3 linked regions of the Homo sapiens genome follow. The protein of the gene in region 3 purifies or fractionates together with the protein of the main gene of each other region. This does not show direct contact. Each region holds a gene or a part of one and is shown on either strand. Other genes may lie near its edges. The genes, in order: TNFRSF10B, ATP11C and MFSD2B.

Region 1 (3,651 bases), on a different chromosome or scaffold from region 3:
CCTCCCAAGTAGCTGGGACCACAGGCACTTGCAACCACACCTGGCTAATTTTTGTATTTTTAGTAGAGACGGGGTTTCACCATGTTGCCCAGGCTGGTCTCAAACTCCTGCGCTCAAGGAATCCTCCCACCTTGTCCTCCCAAAGTATTGGGATTACAGGCCTGAGCCACCGTGCGCAACCTATGATTTTGGTGGTGGTGTTTTTTGTTTTTCTGTTTTTTAAATATTCTTGAGTATATTTGTAAGCTTTAGATGACCTGTTTTAAGTTATTTAATCTATCAACACCATTATATCTGTTATTACGGCCACTGTTTCTGTTGATTACATTTTTTTTCCTGCCCATAGGGACTTTTTTTTTCATGCATAGTAATTTCTTATTGCTTGACATTGTGAATTTTGCTTTCTTGGGTACCGAACATCACTGTGTTCTTTCAAAGTCTATTGGGCATTATTCTGGTCACAGAAAACTGAGGATCAGTTTGCTCCTCTGATACTAGCTTTTATCTACATATAACTATATACCTTGTGTTCAGTTGCCTTATTCAGGGGCTCATTTAGTTAACTACTAAAGTTATAGTGGTTGACTTCTGATGGTAACTCGCCAGCACCCTGGCATGCGTTCTGTCCACTGTGGGAAGGGGAACATGCAGATCTCCCAGCCCTGAGTGGTCCACAATCTAGTCTCTCCTTCCCTGGGTGGCTTCTTCTCAGGCACCTAGAGTCAGTCTCAGCAGACACTGGACATGTCTTCTGCAAGGATCCAGAGTCCTCCAGGCAGCTGCTTCTCCCAGTCTCTGCCCTGCACTTGGCCTCTGGGAGTTCCTGCCTGTGGTTCTCAACAGAGACTACAGAGCTCTACAGGGTCCTCTGCCCCTGCTGTAGCTGGAGGCTGTCCTTACGCAGTGAGCTGAGGCCACAGCTAGTCTCACTGCATGTGCTTGGCGGCGGGGACAGGAGTGATTCATTCATCAGGTAGAGGAGGAACCCTTTACTCTGGGAAAATCTGTGCCTGGGTTGGGGAAGGACAAATGAGCCCTGTGTGAATACTGACTACTCCCTGGAGCCCACAGTCTGGTGGAGCAGGTGACAGCAGGGACCTAAATAACTATCAGGAAGCATGAGGTCCCACCACTGTCACCTCCCCCACCTCCAGAGTGGCTGTGCTGGCTCCAGAGATGTCATCCCTCCATATTTGACTGACAGAGGGAGGCTGTGCAGTCCCAAGGCTCCAGGTCATGGTAGTTTGGCCAGGATAATATGGTTTGCTTAAAATCAACATTGAGGGTAATGATCGTACTAATCAGAGCATGTGTTTAAAGTTCTGTGTTTTAAGCACTTTCCATACATATTAACACTTTCAGTTCACACAACAACCTATGCAGGAACTGTGATTATCCTGGGCAGTTTTAAGGATGTGGGTGACTCAGAGAGGAAAGAAGAGGTTACTCGGGTTAATTTTTGACGAGAAATATTAGCAGGTTTTATGCTCAAACTTGGTGTAAAGCAAGGAGCCTGAATCACAGGTGGGTGAGTCACAAGACAGGGAAACCCCGCCAATGGCTCATGTCCGGGAGGAGGCAGGGTCCCTAGAATTCAATGGGACAAGAACTGAAATAAGCCAAACCCCTGACCTCCCTTCTTCTTGTTTTCCTTCTCTCTCTTAACCATGCCCATGGACACCCCCATGAGCCCATTTCTGTGGCCCAACACAGCTGTGCATCTCTGGCCACACGCCCATTCTCCCTCAATCAGAGAGGCCCACGGACGGCACAGCCTCGTCCTGCACAGCAGAAAGAGTGAATGGTGATGAATGGATCTATATTATTTCAACTCTCCTACATTTTGTAATCATATTACAATATTAATTCAGCAGTACCTCTCTTGTTTTTACTCCCCTCCCCCATTACACTGGATTCCTGTCTGTCTGGGATTCTGTCTGTGTGCACTCTTTCCTCTATGTCCACTACTGTCCCTGCCACCGATGGCATTTGTCACCTCTGCCTGGGCAGCCCCTCCAGACTCTTTGCAAGTTCATGGACTTTGGGGTTAATGATGGCTGTGCCTCAGCTCCTGTGAATGGAAACTGTGCTAAGGAAAGGAAGGGCCGTGCCATGTTCCCGATACTCCACGGCTCCTTGCATATGCGGTCGCCAGGCGCCTACATGCCTTCCATGAATGAATGAATGAGTAACGTGGATTCTAGGAAGCTGCACTAACCCAGACGTTGTGTCCTCAGCCTGCTCATAGAGTGTGTTAAACGTGAGAGGTGGGGAGTGTGGCAGGCAGGCTGAGGACAGAACAGAGGATCTGAATAGAGTACGGAGGATCACCCAAGTCCAGAGTCACCAAGGCCATTGTCAAGTTTTCCCCGGGGACATCCCTCATCAGATCCACCCATTAAAGATCATTGTTCACCCAGTGGAGAGTGGACTAGGTGGGTGCACTCAGGTGTGGCCTGGACAGCATTCGGGATGGGTCCTAGTGGTTAGGGTGAGGGTCAGGTTGCATTATCGTGAAGGAGGCAAGTGGCAGCTGAGGCAGATCTGAGGGAAATGATGATAACGCAGGCCGGTGATGCAATGGGTTTGGTAAGAAGAGGAAAGAGGTTTGTGGTGGATTCTAGTGTTTCTAATCTGAGACTTGGGTGAGGTCATTACCAAATAAGAAAGAGTAAATGGGCATAAATGGCTTTAAGAATTAGGAACCTGAATGTGCTATTGGAGACAGTATGGGCACGTCATTGCTCATAGACCTGCAGTACACAAAATGCTAAAAGATTTCAATCTGAATAGAGATGAAATGAAATGGAAACATGGATTTTTTTTTTTTTTTTTGAGACAGTTTCACTGTTGCTGCCCAGGCTGGAGTGCAATGGCGCAATCTCGGCTCACTGCAACCTCTGCCTCCTGGGTTCAAGCGATTCTCCTGCCTCAGCCTCCTGAACAGCTGGGATTACAGGCGCTTGCCACCACACCCAGCTAATTTTTGTATTTTTAGTAGAGACCGGGTTTCACCATGTTGGCCAGGCCAGTCTCAAACTACTGACCTCAGGAGATCCACCGCCTTGGCCTCCCAAAGTGCTGGGATTACAGGCATGAGCCACCTTGCCTGGCTGGGAACATGGATCTTAAGGAAAGAAGGAAGATCATCAGGAATAGAAATATGAATGCACATATAAAGAATGATTATTTCCTCTTAATTTCTTGAAAATATTCACTATCAAGTAATATAACACTTTGTAGGGTTTGTAACATATGAACATGCCTGAGACAACTATAGCAGAAAGAATGAGTAGTGGAGATGAATCAATCTGTATTATTTCAAGTCTCCTACATTTTATAATATTACCATATTAATTCTGCCATACAACTCAGTAATGAAAAGGAATGGAGTACTGATGCATATGAAAATATGACCGAATTTCAAAATAATTATGCTGAGTTAAAGAAACCAGACAGAAAAGCATATATAGTATCTGATTCCATCTATGATATTTATAGCCAGAAATGGTTTAATTAAAAAAGAAGAAGGATCTTAAATCAACGAGCTAAGTTTACAAATGTAGGAATTAGAAAAAGAATGAACCAAACCTAGAGTTAGCATTATAAAGGAAATAATTATTAGAAGAGAAATAAATAAAACAGAGAATA
Region 2 (3,651 bases), on a different chromosome or scaffold from region 3:
GTCCCTGTCAGTCAGACCAAGAACCTTCCTCTGGGCTTCTATGAATCTCTCTCCAAAAGGGTGCATTACCCAAGTACCTGTAAACATATTACAGGTTTCTGAGATGGGTCTCAGGAGATCCTAGGGGCCAGAATGAAAGTCAGATAACATAATTATATTTCAAGTTCAGATGAGGAAATTCAAATTAATCACAGAGCCTAATTAAAATCCACCATTAAGATAAGGTGGCTTTGTTCATTAGGGTCTTTGTGGCAAAAGAGGAAATGTGAAGACACTGGAGCATCAGAGTACTTGCCCCGAGGCTCACACCTGAACATTCCGAACCAAACAAGGCTTCTGGTTTACAGCAAAGCTGCCTTTATTGCCTGGGCTTGCAATCCCAGAGTGATTGCTTGGACACTAGATAGCAGAAGGTTTCACATATATTCACTGATTTTTCCTGTAGCATGTGTTAGAGACCTGAAATGGCATCTAAATTTGAGAAACATTCCAGGCAAACTCTCATTCTGGCTACTGGACCCAGATGTGAACCAGATTGGAATTTCCACCTCAAACTCCAGTTTCTGCAATTCTATGTAACATGGCTTCTACCCCAACTATATTTACATAAAACTCTGAACTGGGAGAGCAGGGTCCTGTATTTTTAGTGGCATCATTTCCTTTGCTGCCCTGCCTGAATCCACTTAAATTTGACTATGGGGTTAAGAAATGACAAACATCAAACACAGAGCTACTTACTCTTCTATTTCTTTTCTTTGGTTCTCTACTCTCATATATCCATTTCGATTTCCTAAAAATGTGAACCCGTACCTATCAAAAACAATAAAAAAGACCTTGTGTATCTCTAAAGAATGATTAATTTTTTTATTATTATTTTTTTTGAGACAGAGTCTCGCTCTGTTGCCCAGGCTGGAGTGCAGTGGCGCGATCTCGGCTCACTGCAACCTTCACCTCCCAGTTTCAAGCGATTCTCCTGCCTCAACCTCCTGAGTAGCTGAGATTACAGGTGTGTGTCACCACACCCGGCTGATTTTTGTATTTTTAGTAGAGACAGAGTTTCACCATGTTGGCCAGGCTGGTCTTGAACTCCTGACCTCAGGTGATCCACCCGCCTTGGCCTCCCAAAGTGCTGGGATTACAGGCGTGAGCCACCGCACCTGGTCTAGAATGATTACTTTCAATGGGGTAACTCATGCTTGTTTATGCTTTTCTTCTCTTTCATATGATCTCAACATATAACTGTACTTTCTTTTCCTGGATAAGTTGATAACAGAGAAAGTCAATGCCCAGCCACAATTATTGTAACCAAGGGAGAGACAATTTGGGTTTCTGATTCTACGGCTAACACACTGGGTGACCTTTGAGCCACTTAATTATCTTGAACCTCATGGGTAAAACTGGACTTTCGGTTCTCAAATGATGTCAAAATTGCTGGGAGCACCTCAGAAATAACATGTGTTGTACAAAAAGTGGCCACTGTTATGTTATTTGCAAAACATAGTATGAACATTCAGACTTCTGGCTGGCATGCATAAATAGTAAGGCAAGTAATACCTACCTGTAACTATTTTCTTTTTAGTCTTAACTGGTTAGGTGTGGGAATTTTCCACAAATTTTTGGCTAAAGCAGTTGTGTTTTTTATTAAATAATAGGAGATGTATGTGCTAAGGTCACTGAAGCAAACGGAAAAAAACAAATAACTTCTGTCCTCCTGTGATTTCACTTTCTTAGGAGAAGTATAAGAAAGTATACTTTACCTTTTAGCTCCTTTCACCAAAGCTATTTCATCTGGTGAAGAGGAGATATAGGTTAATTCAGCTGATTCTGTAGCTCCATCAACAGCATCGTTTGTTTTGATTTCTACAGTATGACATAAACACAAGGCACGTAGAAACAGCTCTTCTCGATTCTGTGGAACAGCAACAAAATAATGATTATTATTTTTAATTTGATCACCCGGTAACTAGGCAGTGAACGGAGAAAATATATTAATGTGAGAGAATGTTGTAACTTCTAACAAACTTAGTAGCAGATACGTATAAATTCTTAACACTCAAATCTGCTATATATTCTCCTAGTACCTAATAAGAGTTCCTGGTTCTCAGCTAGCATACCCTATAGGCTGTGTTAACTCATTAAGGTTATTGTGGCACCACCTAAGCCAAAGCAGTGACTTCTTCATGGCCTAAAAAACTTCATTCAGTATCTAATTCACAATCTAGCAATAGCTCAAGTGTAGGGAGACTCTGGTTAATTTAATGCCTAGACACTCCTGAGACTTTAATCATTTGAACAGACATCATTCTTGGAGGAGCTTACATTTTAAAAGACAAAGCACAAAAAATTATGATCATACAGACAAGCAAGCTTTTACCCAAATGTCATTTCCCACAATTCTCTTTACTTGTAAATTCTACTCATTTACAAATTTCAGAAGTGTCAGTAAAACAAGAAAGGTGAATCCAACAATAGTTATTCTAAAGTCACTGGGCACAGTGGCTCATGCCTGTAATCCCAGCACTTTGGGGGACGGAGGGTGGTGGATTACCTGAGGTCAGGAGTTTGAGACCAGCCTGACCAACATGGTGAAACTCCGTTTCTACTAAAAATACAAAAAAATTAGCCAGGCATGGTGGCAGGCGCCTGTAATCCCAGCTACTCGGGAGGCTGAGGCAGGAGAATCGCTTGAACCTGGGAAGCGGAGGTTGCAGTGAGCTGAGATCATGCCACCGTACTCCAGCCTGGGCAACAGAGTGAGACTCCATCTCAAAAAAAAAAAACAAAAACACAAAAGTCTATGTCATGTGTCCACCTAAAAATTATTTTCTACTATGGAATGTTAACATGCATACACAGATTGGTTTCTTATATAAAACAATAATGCAAATGCACCTTATCTACTTTGTCAAAATATGTTAAAGTTCCATCAGTTTGAGATAATCCATCAACCTCTTGAGTTACACCTTTATATTTGTGGCCATCTATGCAGCATTCAATGAATTCCATGCTGTTTTCAGTGAGTGTTCCAGTCTTATCTGTAAATACATAATCCACCTAAAACAAGGACACAAACATATATTGTTAGTTTCTTCAGTGTGACTAATTTTTAGTTTGCTGTAACGCAAAGCTATTTTCATATCCATAGGAAATCACCCCTTCTAAGACTTCTTGTCAAATGTCAGGGAATTACAGAGACAATATTACCAAAGAAATGAGGAATAAATGAGTATTTTTAAAGACACCAAAATGCTATCACATGTCTAAGGTAGATCTACTCAAATGTAAAAGATGAATAGAAAAAAATGTGACTATTGGCCAGGCACGGTGGCTTATGCCTGTAGTCCCAGCACTTTGGGAGGCTGAGGCAGGAGGATTGCTTGAGCTCAGGAGTTCAAGACCAGCCTGGCCAACATGGTGAAACCCCGTCTCTACTAGAAATACAAAAATTAGCTGGGTGTGGTGGCACACACCTGAAATCCCAGCTACTTGGGAGGCTGAGGCACAAGAATTGCTTGAATCCAGGAGACAAAGGTTGCAGTGAGCTGAGATCACATCACTATACTCCAACCTGGGTGATAGAGTGAGACTCTGTCTCAGGAAAAAAAAAAAAAAGTGACTATTTTATCAAACTAAGAACGCTTCTCATTTAAG
Region 3 (3,751 bases):
TCACACCACTGCACTCCAGCCTGGGTGACAGAGACTCAGTCATAAATAAATAAATAAATAATCAGATCCCATCTCCTCTCTGATTAAAACTCTCCAATGGCTTGCTATTGCAGGGTTTTTTTGTCTGTTTTTGTGTGTGTGTGTGTGTGTGTGTGTGTGTTTTGTTTGTTTGTTTGTTTGTTTCCAGATCCATGGTATTCAGTCAATACCATTGCAGTTTGAATAAAACTCCAAGTCCTGATCATGGCTAAGGAGTCCACCCAGTCGGCCCCCTACCCACCTCACCTCAAATAGCTCTCCTTCAGCCACGCCGGGCTCCTTCCTATTCCTCAAAATCATCAAGTCTGTTGCTGCCTCAGGGCCTTTGCCCTTCCCATTCCTCTGCCTGGAAGGTGACTCCTTGTCATTCTGGTTTGATGTCACCAGCTTAAATGTCACCTCCTCCAAGAGGCATTCCCTAACCTCTCACCTCTCTCAGTTGTACTTACCGCCTGCTATATTTTCATTTAGTTCCTGCCTCTCCCTACAGGAATGTAAGCTCTCTGAGAGCATGAACTCCACCTTTTATTTATCATGGTGTTTCCAGTACCTAGAACAAAGCTTGGTATACAGTAGGTGCTTAGTATATATCCGTTGAAGCAATAAATGGCCATGAAGACCCTGTGTAAAGTGCTGTTTCTTTGGAAGAAGCTGGGCTCTTTTCTCATCGTTTGCTGGGGGCTGGAGGGAGTGGAGATGACATGGCTTCACCCATTTCCACATCTTGCAGGACACCCCAGCAGGCTCTTGTGAAGGGAAGGTCTCCCCAGATAAGGGTTTATCACACTTTGCACACTCTTCCTACCCACAGGGGAAAACCACACTGGGGGCAGGATGATTCTTTTCTGACATTTGTGTGAACATCATTTCAGCTTCCAGAAAACTTTAAGAACAGGCAGAATTCAACGTGACAGTCCCCCTCTCCCCCTAATGGGGACTCTTGTATCCCCCAAAACAGGCCTAGCAAGTTTTTAGAACTTTAGAAAGAACTTCCAAGTGAAGCCAGGGATATGATCCCATCTTGCCGTCTTGAGGATGACAGTTTTACCGAAAGTCATAAAAGCCCGGTACAGCTGTACAGTGAGCTGTACAAGGAGAAGCCCCTTGGGAGGGGCGGCTCCGGGCGAGGGGCGCAGCCCTGCTATCTCTAGCTGCGTGACCCAGGGCAGGGCACCTCGGTCTCCTTGGAGTGACCGGGGCTGCCACCCCTCGGAGAGTCGTAAGAGGATTCCACGCCGGAACTTCATCAGCAATGCGAGTGTTTCCCTCTTGCTGTTAATCTCACCCTGAATTTCTAAGTTTCCCTGGGAAGTGAGAGTCCCCGGAGAGCCCCTTCATCTCACCTCACTTTCTTGTGGGATGCAATCCTGTGCTCCCAGGTGCCTCGTAGGAAGCCCTGAACAGGCTGGGGGCTGAGGTGGTCAGGGGAGGCCACAGAATGCCCTGGGCACGAGCAGGGAGCAGGCGCGTTCAGTGAGGCCCAGGAAGCCCCAGGCCCCTTGCTCCGTCCAGCACAGCCCCACTGGCCAGCACGGCCCGGCGGCATCGGGCAAGGGACAAGGGGCCCCGAAGACCCCGCCGCTCCCACCTGCCCTCCTCCCTTCTTGTCGGAGCCCATGGCCAGGACCTTCCCTGAGGCTGCCTCCAAGGGGAGCCTGGTGCCTGGGCGAGGCCAGGGTCTGGGAGGGAGGCCGAGGCCACAGCAGCTGCCTGAGGTCGGGAAGGACGCAGCCTCCCCAGGCGCTTCAGAAAGCCCTGCCTGCCCAGAGCTCGGGGACCCCGGGAGGACCTGCGGTGGCACGGACAAGACCCCTAAGCCGGGAATCAGGACAGCAATGACCACGCATCCCCAAGTTACTTCCTTGGCTAGGGCTAGGCTTCCCGTCCTAGTCTCTTTCCGGCGCCGGCACCTACCAGCCTCCCCGCTCCCAGCCGTGTAACCCCGCGAGGGCAGCCCCTGAGCTGGCAGGTTTGGGCCGAGCCCCTCCGGGCTGCCCCCAGCTGGAAAAGGGGCTGCGAGGCGACGCCCTGGAGCTCCCCGAGGACGCAGCCCCTTCCCGGTCCCCGCCGCCCCGCTCACCTCTCGCCCTCGCTTGGCGCTCCCCGGGCCGGGCTCTGGGGCGTGCGGCTCCGGCTGCGGGGACCCCTTGGCGGCTGGTGCAGGGGGCGCCGCCATTGCCACCGCAGCGCCGCCCGCGGCCGTTGCCCTCGGGGTTATCGCCCTTGGGAGGGGCGGTTCTGGGCTAGGGGCGCGGCGCGAGTGGCTGCTGGCAACGCGGGGGAAACGCAGAAACCGCGAAGGGCACCCCAAAGGGAAACAGCGAAGAACCAAAATCCGCGGGGGGAAAGGCCCGGCAGGCCCTCAGGACCGTTCTCCTTGGGGTGGATCCCCGGGGGCGTGAGCGCCCGCAGACGGCGGCCCTGCGCGCTAAGGGCTCCGCCAGACCGCTGGGGTGACCGCGGGCAAGCAGCAGCTCCCCTGCAAAATGAAGCAAGAGGCCCGCTCGTTCAGGCTGGACCATGGCTGAACAGGCATTCCGCCGGCTACACATGATGCCCAACGCCTGAAATATACATTGTCGAGTCTCCTATACAGACCACGGGGATGGCCAGTAACTAAGTTCTGGCCAGCGAATAAAAGCAGGTGGCACAGGCCAACATTCCAGAAAAGTCCTTAAAAGGGAAGGGGGGTGACAGCAGGTAGCTAGTCAGCCTCGAAAAGGGCAGGAGAGGGCCACGCTTCCAACCAGGTACGTCAGGCAACCATCAGGCGACAGTCAGGCGGTTGTTATGCTCCCTCTAAAATGATCATTGATCCAGCGGGGCCAGGGAAAGGCAGTCTCCCAATAGATAGAGAAAACCTGAAACTGGTGATCAGCTTCTCGGTAAGATCTCAGGAGCTGGGCAAGTGGGCTTACACAAATTGCGGAGTTTAACTGACATGTGACCCTCGAAGGACACCGGACTGGTAAGGGAAGAACGCCTCCAGTGAGCATGGGTACAACTCCAGTATACACAGTGTGCACACTCCCCTCCCAAGTGCTGGCAGACCACTGCCCATGCAGGCAGGCCTCCCAAGGGAAGAATCAGGGGAGAAGGGATGCAAGACCCCAGAAGTATGCCAATGCATAAGACCCCAGGTCAAAAGGTCAAACTGTGCGCTTCTTTTTCAGGTCACCCGCTTGGCCCTCTTCCAAGTGTACTTTCCTTCCTTCCATTTCTGCTGTAGAGCTTTTTAATAAACTTTTATTCCTGCTCTAAAACTTGCCTCAGTCTCTCCTTCTGCCTTATGCCCCTCAGTGGAATTCTTTCTTCTGAGGAGGCAGGAACTGAGGTTGCTGCAGACCCATATAGATTCACTCCTGCTGACATATTTTGGTGCCACGTGACTCAGATACCTTCCACCAGTAACAGGGGTACACATTAACTAAAAATGCATCATAGACCTAGAATGTAAAACTTATGAAAAAACAGGAGCAAGGGACAGGCACGGTGGCTCATGCCTGTAATCCCAGCTACTCGGCAGGCTGAGGCAGGAGAATCGCTTGAACCCGGGAGGCGGAGATTGCAGTGAGCCAAGATCGTGCCACTGCATTCCAGCCTGGGTGACAGAGGGAGACTCTGTCTCAAAAACAAAAACAAAAACAAAACCAACCAAACACAAAAAACCCAGAAGCAACTCTTCATCATATTGGGCCAGGCAATTGTTTCT

Evidence for each region.
Region 1: the proteins of MFSD2B (region 3) and TNFRSF10B purify together in Homo sapiens (affinity purification with mass spectrometry; one large-scale study listed by BioGRID and IntAct). This does not show direct contact.
Region 2: the proteins of MFSD2B (region 3) and ATP11C purify together in Homo sapiens (affinity purification with mass spectrometry; one large-scale study listed by BioGRID and IntAct). This does not show direct contact.

The regions. Positions count from the first base shown.
Region 1 is NC_000008.11:23,062,531-23,066,181, reverse strand, and holds part of TNFRSF10B (tumor necrosis factor receptor superfamily member 10B isoform 1 precursor), read left to right. Parts: intron 1-3,651. UniProt on the Homo sapiens protein: Receptor for the cytotoxic ligand TNFSF10/TRAIL. The adapter molecule FADD recruits caspase-8 to the activated receptor.
Region 2 is NC_000023.11:139,786,435-139,790,085, forward strand, and holds part of ATP11C (phospholipid-transporting ATPase IG), read right to left. Parts: intron 3,055-3,651; coding exon 2,893-3,054; intron 1,910-2,892; coding exon 1,758-1,909; intron 811-1,757; coding exon 739-810; intron 1-738. UniProt on the Homo sapiens protein: Catalytic component of a P4-ATPase flippase complex which catalyzes the hydrolysis of ATP coupled to the transport of aminophospholipids, phosphatidylserines (PS) and phosphatidylethanolamines (PE), from the outer to the inner leaflet of the plasma membrane.
Region 3 is NC_000002.12:24,008,561-24,012,311, reverse strand, and holds the start of MFSD2B (sphingosine-1-phosphate transporter MFSD2B), read right to left. Parts: upstream 2,228-3,751; 5' UTR 2,216-2,227; coding exon 2,120-2,215; intron 1-2,119.